2 linked regions of the Homo sapiens genome follow. The protein of the gene in region 2 interacts with the protein of the main gene of each other region in a pairwise test. Each region holds a gene or a part of one and is shown on either strand. Other genes may lie near its edges.

The links.
Region 1: the proteins of putative serine/threonine-protein kinase SIK1B (region 2) and LHX8 interact in a two-hybrid assay, tested with the Homo sapiens proteins (one large-scale study listed by BioGRID).

The regions. Positions count from the first base shown.
Region 1 is NC_000001.11:75,158,258-75,162,213, forward strand, and holds the end of LHX8 (LIM/homeobox protein Lhx8), read left to right. Parts: intron 1-2,561; coding exon 2,562-2,638; 3' UTR 2,639-3,276; downstream 3,277-3,956. UniProt on the Homo sapiens protein: Transcription factor involved in differentiation of certain neurons and mesenchymal cells.
Region 2 is NC_000021.9:6,109,776-6,114,071, reverse strand, and holds the start of putative serine/threonine-protein kinase SIK1B, read right to left. Parts: upstream 2,942-4,296; 5' UTR 2,820-2,941; intron 2,003-2,819; 5' UTR 1,989-2,002; coding exon 1,833-1,988; intron 1,334-1,832; coding exon 1,217-1,333; intron 1-1,216. UniProt on the Homo sapiens protein: Serine/threonine-protein kinase involved in various processes such as cell cycle regulation, gluconeogenesis and lipogenesis regulation, muscle growth and differentiation and tumor suppression. Phosphorylates HDAC4, HDAC5, PPME1, SREBF1, CRTC1/TORC1.

The sequences.
Region 1 (3,956 bases), on a different chromosome or scaffold from region 2:
TTAATTTCTTCATGTAATCTGCATATAAAGCTTTTTGATAATTGTATGTGCTTAGAATATTTTCTCCTACTTAGTTGCTTGGCTTTTTCTACTCTCTTAATGGAATGTTTCATTGAGCACAAGTTCCTAATTTTAATGTAGTTTATTTCATCATTTTTCCTTCATGAGCCATGCTTTTTTTGGTGACATGTGCAAGAAATTGTTTATACTCAAAGATAATGAAGATATATCTTCTATGATATCATCTAGAAACTTTGTTTTACCTTTGCTGTGTAGATTTACAATTCATTTGGAACTGAATTTTGTGTGTGGTGTGAGGTAGAAAGTGAAGCTTTTTTGTTATGTTGATGAAAATAGAAAATGTCCAGCTTCTCTGTAGAGACATATTTGCCATAAATCAAATGTCCGTATGTTGTGTCAATTTCTGTACCTTCTGTTCTATTTTATTGGTCTATTTATTTTTGTGTTGCTACTTAATCATTCTAATCATGGTAGGTCTATAATTTTTAATATATGATAATGTGTTTCTATTTTGTTGTTATTCAAGTTTGTATTGCCCATTCTTGGCCCTTTATGTTTTCATAAAATTTACCTACTTGTCTATTTCTACCCCAAAAGGGAAAACAATTAAGATTTTGATACAATCTATTACAGCAAATATATTGATCAGTTTTAGGAAATTGCCATCTTAACAGTATTTTCTTCCATACCATGAACTTTAGCATGTCTTTCCATTTGTTTAGATCATCTTTAAATCATCTCATGATTTAGACTTTTCTGTTTAGTAATCTTGCACATCTTCTGTTAAGTTTATCTCTAAGTATTTCTTTTGATTCAGTTGTAAGTGGTATTTTCTCTATAAGTAGAAATCTGGATTGGTAGTTATTTTCTTTCAGCACTTTGAAGATATGATTACCTTGTCTTCTGATTTTCATTGTTTGTTTTGCATATGGATAGCTAATTAACCTGGCCCCATTTATTGGTAAAGTCAGCTATTGACCTTCTTGCTCCTTCGAAAATAAACGTCTTTTTTCCTCAACTTTTTTCTTTGTGTTTGTCTTGAAAAAGTTTTACCATACTGTGCCTGGGTGTGCTTCTTGAATATGTAGTTTGATGTCTTTCATTATGGAAAATTCTCAGCTTTTGCCTCCTCAAATATTGTTTTTGCTCCTATGAAAAAATTTTCTTGTTTTCTTCTGAACTATTTTTCTAGTTCACTAATGCTCTCTATATCTAATATCCTGTAAAAAAATCATCCACCGACTTCTTAATTTATTATGTTTTTCAGTTTTAAGATTTCCATTTATATGCTGAAATCATCCATTTTGTCACTTTATCCTTATTTAAATTGTTATACTAAAGTTCAGGTGTGATAACTCCAATATCTGGATCTTTGGTGGGTCTATTCTGTTTTCTTAATTTTCCTCTTTATTTTCTTTCAAGTCATGTCTTGTTATTTGTCTTCTTATTTGCTATTGCATTTCAGATGTTGGGTATGAGTAACTAAAAATAATTTGAGGCTGTGGATGATATCTTTCACTAGAGAAGATTAGTTTTACCCCCCAGGTAGTCAGAATAGGGTGAAATCAACTTAATCCAATCAGGCACAAATCCTTAAGAGGGCTGGTATATTTTTGTTTTACTACTCCTTGGAGTTAGCCCTTTGGAATCACAAATGAATCCCTGTTTTGTTTTGTTTTCTGTTGTTGTTTTTAACTAGGGCTTCTCCTCTTCAGCGGGCCCTGCTCTTTAATTTTTGTTTCTCACCACTCTGCCAAAGTCTAACTTCTGAATGCTCTGCTAAACTTCTTGGCCTATCAGACATTTGTTTTGTTTTAAATTGTCACTATCCTTGCGGGAGGAAAAGCATCCTCATTTTCTTTCCCTCCACTCTGGGACTTTGTAAGTCCTCACTACTTAAGTGTCTTTCAGATGCCTTCAAACAGATTTTAAAAATTTTGTCCAGATTTCCTAGTTGGTCTCAGAGAAAGGTTTGGTTTGAAGCAACATAGCCCTTGCTGAAAGCAGAAACTTCATTTTAAGTTTTGGTTAGATAAAAAATCAGAGCCTGTACTGTTGTTGCCATTTACTTATACTAGCATTAAAATTGTGTGTGTTCACATGAAACACAGTAGTGTTGCCTGAGTCCAGTGTGTTTTGATGTATGCTTAGGGAGGAGGTAATTAAACATTAATGAAAGAAACTTGGGGAAGATCATCCTATACAAACACCTTCATGAGAAAGCTAGCAGCAGCATCTCTGAAGAGGAACCCATGTCTTTCTAGCTTCAGGGTGAAGTGCAGTGAATGGGGTATGGATGGAGGACATTAAAATGGCAAAATCTTGTGGCCCCAAATAAAGATTTGGGGGTAAAACTGTTCCTGGACTCTCACTATGCTGAATAGGTTAATGCTTCTGCTGAGGTCAGTGGAATGAGTGTAGCTTGGTGCCCTCAGCTATAATGAGTGATGAAAACAATGCCTTGGATTGTTTTTGTTTGTTTATAAATCAGTTTTATGCACCCTACAAAACTGATCCACAAATTTCTTTCTATTTTGTAGCTCATTCACCAACAACTCTTGGACTCCAGCCCTTGTTACCCCATTCAATGACACAACTGCCAATAAGTCATACCTAATTCTTTTTTCAGGGATAGACTTGATTAAGGATATAAATTTGTCATTTATTATGTATAAAATACCATTGAAAAGATATTACTGTTAATTTTTTATTTAACACCTAAAGCATTTCCAACATCACTTTGCTGCCCAGGTATGTATCTATAGTTGGCCTGCAAGACACTTTTATTAATTCTTCATTTTTTGTAAAACTTATGTTTACAAGAAGAAAACAAATCAAAACATTTTTTGTATTGTCTGGAAATAGTTCACTCTAGTGTGTATCTGTTAATTTATTTGTCATCAAAAGAGCACTTTGCCTAAAAGAAAGGACTGACAAGTGTGCAAAATGTTTACAATCTTTTGTGAAATTGTAGTTTATCATTAGTTTGTATCTGTAAGTTATTGTAATAAATATTACCTGTATTTTTTGTTATATACAACTTTATACTTTGAAGCTTGTATCTGTGAATTTGCAACTGAAATTTATTTTGCCAATGTTTTCTGAATGAACTGAATAAAGCTTCTGTTGTAGCATGCCATGCAAACACATTATTGTGTTTGTGGTTGATGAATTATGGCTGTAAATAACACTATAGTTTAATAAGCCCACCATTCTGAGTTTATTAAACATTTTCCATTCTTGTGAAAATTTCAACCAGTTTGTCCTTTTTGTGTGTTTTCAGCAGTAAGTTGACTTTAGTCTCTTTAAAATCTAACAACTAATAAGTTTAAAAAGTATTGTGTTTTGAGCTGCATTGTATGAACACATTTGAGTAGGAAACATATTATTCAAAAAAAAAAAACACAGTAAAACATTTAATTTGGCAAAAATTGTCTTTTAGGCCAGCTAATAAAATCAATGTGAAAGAGAAGGCAGAACACTTTTCAGAATGGACTTCGGAGGGTATTACAAGCCAGAAATGAAATATGGGCCATAATATATTTCTTCAGGAGTGAAAAAAGAGAACTAAAAGTTTCTAGAGCAAGAACTCTTTGCATTTTCTTCTTGGTGAATACCCTTTAGGGATGGTGATTCTGAGAGCTGAAATCTTAAACCTCAGGACTTTATCTTATGTGGCAGTGGACTTACAAATTTTTGAATTTAAAGAATTTAGTACTCACTTTTTGTCTTTTTATATGCCAGTTGGGGAAGAAAAAAGGTAATGAGAAAAAACTTTTAGAACTTAGGTTTAAGTCTGTGTTTAACTGAGCAGATTTGCATCAGGCTGAGGACTGGAAATAATAGCAGAGTATTTGTAATTTTATTCTAGTAATCATAAATACAACCAGAAAGTAATCATATGGATATAAGTAACTTATCTGCCTGAAACCAGA
Region 2 (4,296 bases):
AATGGGCAAAGGAGAAGAACAGGAAGAAAAGGAAGGTACTACCATTAGGGTTCAGCCCTTGAGCAAAGTCAAAAACAAAACCAGCTCAGCCCACTCCTGAGGAAATGGGCTGGGCACGCTGCACAGGCAGTACACCAGTGGCCATGGAGCACACAACTTAAAAATGACAACAGAAACAAAACACAAACCAGGCGCACACGGCATGAATTCTGTGCTTAAAGACACTGAGCAAACTGTCGTAAGCTCCACCAATACTGCTACTTTTATTTTCAATCTAGTGCAGAGGCTTTTGGGGGATAATTTCGAATCATAATTCTCTCTCCTACCACACTGTACACCGAGCTGTCCTAATTGCACAAACACACACAACAACATCCCAGAGTCATCTCACATTCCATTTCATAAGAATCATTACGAGGAACTTCAACCCAACACAAATGGATGAAATAGCACCTGCAAAGAACTTCTTCTGCAAGAAGACTTGATTTCACCTTGCAAAAGTGGTCATTTGTCATTAGGGAGGTGTAAATGATTGCTTTGCTGTTCTAATTAAATTAGTACTTATTTCCTGATGATATAATTTATTAATTTCAACATGAGAACAAAAATTAAGTCACAAAATAAACCAACAGAGAGACAGGGCAAGCCATGTTCCTAGCATGGATTAAATGACAAGCTCCTTGCTCTTACTATGGAAAAGTATTTTCATCTCTCCGTTTTTCATGGAAGAGTTTAAATAGGGAAAACAAATGCTCACTACTGTCCTTGCAAAAATAAACTAATGAAAACCAGTAAGAGCAGCTGGCTTTAAAGTTTAATAATTATCTGCAAAGGCAGAAGTTTCCAGTTTCACTCAAATTTGTCCTTTTATACTAAATGCGTGACCTGTGGCAATACCTACAGATAAGTTTGTCTGTTTTCATAGTAAAGCAAATTTACAACAGACTTCTACACATTTAAAACTGGATCAGGTTAGGATACTAAATAAAATTCTAATGAAGCAAATCTCAATTATGATCCAAAAGCAATAAAATAATTGTAAATATATCTGCACAGCCTATAAAAATCAATCTATTTACCTTATACAACCAAATGCCCAACTTCCACACACTCCCCAAAAGGGAAGCCACCTTCAGAAATTGCAGACTTATGCTGTTGGAAATAAAATATAACACATTTGCCAGGATTAGCAGAGAAAGGCAAGCTGACCCCTTACCTGGTAAAGCTTTATGATGTGTGGATGGTTCAGAAGCTTCATCAGCTGAACCTCACGATAGATTTTCTCCAAATTGCTTGAATCTAATCGTGTTTTATCAATTATTTTTATTGCAACCTACAAATTTAAAAAGAAAAAGGATATTCTGTGGGTTTTTTTAAAAAAAGAAAAGAAACCCTCAACCTAATTTACACATTTCATTTTTTGCAAGTTAATTTCTCAACACTCTGTCTCCAGAAGGTCACAAGAAGTTGGGAAAACATAACCAAAGTAACCACTAATGTTATTTAAAATAATCAGAGTTAAGTAAGTGACTTAAGTATTTGCAGGCTCACTTTACAGGGTTTAGCTCTGAGTCCATGAACCACTGCAATCTTAGGTTGGTCCTTTTTTTTGCTATTATCCTCTCTGCTTTCTCCCAATATATGTCCAAATTATGCAGCAACATAATATAAAGCATTATTTTTCTTTACCGAACTAAAAACGGTTACTATTTACCCACCACGACAATCAAGCCTGGAGCAGTGAATCTGCATGGGGTCCACCCGCCAAAGGTCGGGTCGCCCCGGGTCCAGTGGGGAGGCCCCGCCGGCTGGGTCCCACCGCCCCCACGCACCTGCGTTTTGGTGACTCGATGCCGCGCCAGCTTCACCACCGCGAAGTTGCCTTTGCCCAGGGTCCGCTCGATGTCGTAAAAACCCACCCGGAGGGGCTTCTGCTGGCCCTGACCCTGGCCCGCGGGGTCCGCGCTGAACTCCGACATGATAACCATGGCTCCGCGCGCACCTGCGGGGCCGCACAGAGCTCAGAGCCCACCAGCGCCCCCGCCGCCCGCGGTCGGCTCCATCCGTGCCCGCGGAGCCCCCAGTCCCCACGGGACGCAGGGACCTGCTCCCACGCCTGTCGCCCCCACTCTATCCACGGGCCCCTCCAGCCCCGTGGGAGGTGTGGACCCGCCCCCGCCGCCCGCTCCACCCGGACCCCCGACCCTCTTGAGCCCCGCGGGGCGCACGGACCCGCTCTCATAGAGGCCCCTGCCGCCCGAGTCCGGTTCCGTCCCGATCCCGGGACCCCCTGAGCCGGGATTCCACACTCGCCTCCCGCCGCCCGCTGTCGGTTCCGTCCCCACCCTCGACCCCTTTAGCACCTCTGGGCGCGGACCCGCTCCCACACCTGGCCCTGCCACCCGAGGTCGGCTCGATCCGGATCCCAGGACCGTCCCCTGCCCCGCTCCCACACCCTGCCCCCGCCGCCCGCGATCCGTCCGGTCCCCACCCCCGACATCCCAGGCACCTCGGGGATCGCGGACCCGCCCCCCACACCCGGTCTCTCCGCCCGCGGTCGGCTCCAACCTGACCCCCGGCTCCCCAGCCCCTGAGCCCCGCGGACTCACTCCTACCCCGGCCCCCCAACAAAGGGGAGCCCGAGGGCGGCCAGGCCGCCAACCCCGCCCGCGAACCCCGCGCGCGCAAGGCCAGGGACCCTGCGCGGTGGCTGCAACCCCGAGCCCCGGCCCGGCGCCCGCGCGGAGCCCCCACGGCGGCCACCTCCGCCCGCCCGGAGCCCGCCGCTGCCGCCGCTGCCGCCGCTGCCGCCGCCTCACCTCCGCCGCCACCGGAGCGCCCAGGCCAGGAAGCCGCCCGCTCGGCCGCTGGCGCTGCTCGGGTGCCTACTGCTCCGGCTGCCGCCGCCGCTGCTGCTGCCTCCGGGGCCGCGCCGCATGTCAGCCCGGAGCCGCCGCGCTCCGCCGCACGCGGCGCCCGGCCCCGCCCCGGCCCGCCCCGGCCCGCCCCCCGTAGTCCCCGCCCCCTGCCCCGCCCCCGCCGCCCGGGCGGGGGCCGCCCATTGACGTCGCTTTGACGCCAGAGCGACGCGCGGCCGAGCGCCGGGCGGAGGGAGAGCGGGAGATCGGGCGGTTGCCAAGAGACTGGCGGCTCTGACGCGCGCGGGATGAGGCCGTTGCCCTGGCGACCGCGGGCCGGTGACGTCAGGGGCGCCCGCCGCCCGAGGCCCGCCCGCCTGCGCTCCGCCGGGCGCCCCCTCCCGGGCGCTGGGGGCACTGCGGGCGGCCCCACCGCCGAGGGCGCGCCCGCCCCTCCACGCTCGGGCACTCGGGCCGGGTCCCGCGGGCGCCTTGTGCTCGCTCCCTCCAGGAGGGGACGGCTCTCGGGCAGGGGTCGCCGGCCCCTCCACGCGGCCTGCGTTCGTCCAGACTCAGAGCCTCGGGACGTGCGGGGGCCCGGGGGCCTCGCGGGCTCGCGCGTGGGGCTGGCGGCGCGGATGCCCTGGGGCGCTGCAGACCCCGAGAGGCCGCTTGCCCGCGGGGACGTCAGCCGCTTTTGCTGTTAAAATCTGAAATGTTCAGCAAGTTAGAAACTTGAAACCTAAGGAAGCGTGACCGGCCGCTCTGGAAGCCCCCGCCGCGCGGCCGGTCCCGGCCCCGGCCCTCAGCGGCGCTGGCGTCTGCGCGTCCCGGGGCTGCCCCCGCAGCATGTGGGGCTGGGACCCTCTTCCCGCGCGGGCCCCGGGCGGACGCTGCGGGCGGTGACGGAGCCAGGCCGGCCGCCTGGGTAGGGGACGGGGGCGCGGGACCACTTGCTTGCCCGTGGCCGATGCCTCATCCGAACGGAAAACGTTTTCTTCAGGGGAGACAGAGGCTGTGGGCGAAGGTATTTTTTAAGCCTGAGGACCCATTTGGGAGTTAGATTCTGGATCGAGCCTAGGGTCAGTTTTCCTTGTGTTAAATAACACTACTTCACAGAAGGGGGAACGAGAATTCAGGGAAGTTGGCACAAAACTTGGAACCCTTCTCGGGAGGCTTTCCTGCCTGGACGGACGCCTGGGAGGAGGGCCCGGAGAAACGAGGATGAGCTTCTCCTCATTCGCCCGAGGGTCTGACCACAGATTTCCCAATCGACACACACACACACACACACACACACACACACATACACACACACGGGTTGTTTGGGAGTCAGTTGGTTTTCAAAGGCTTTCAAGGAAATGAAGAGTCCCAAAGTTTTCCTTAATCGTTCAGAGTGTTTTTCTTTGTCCCAGGTTTATATACCAAGAATACGGGG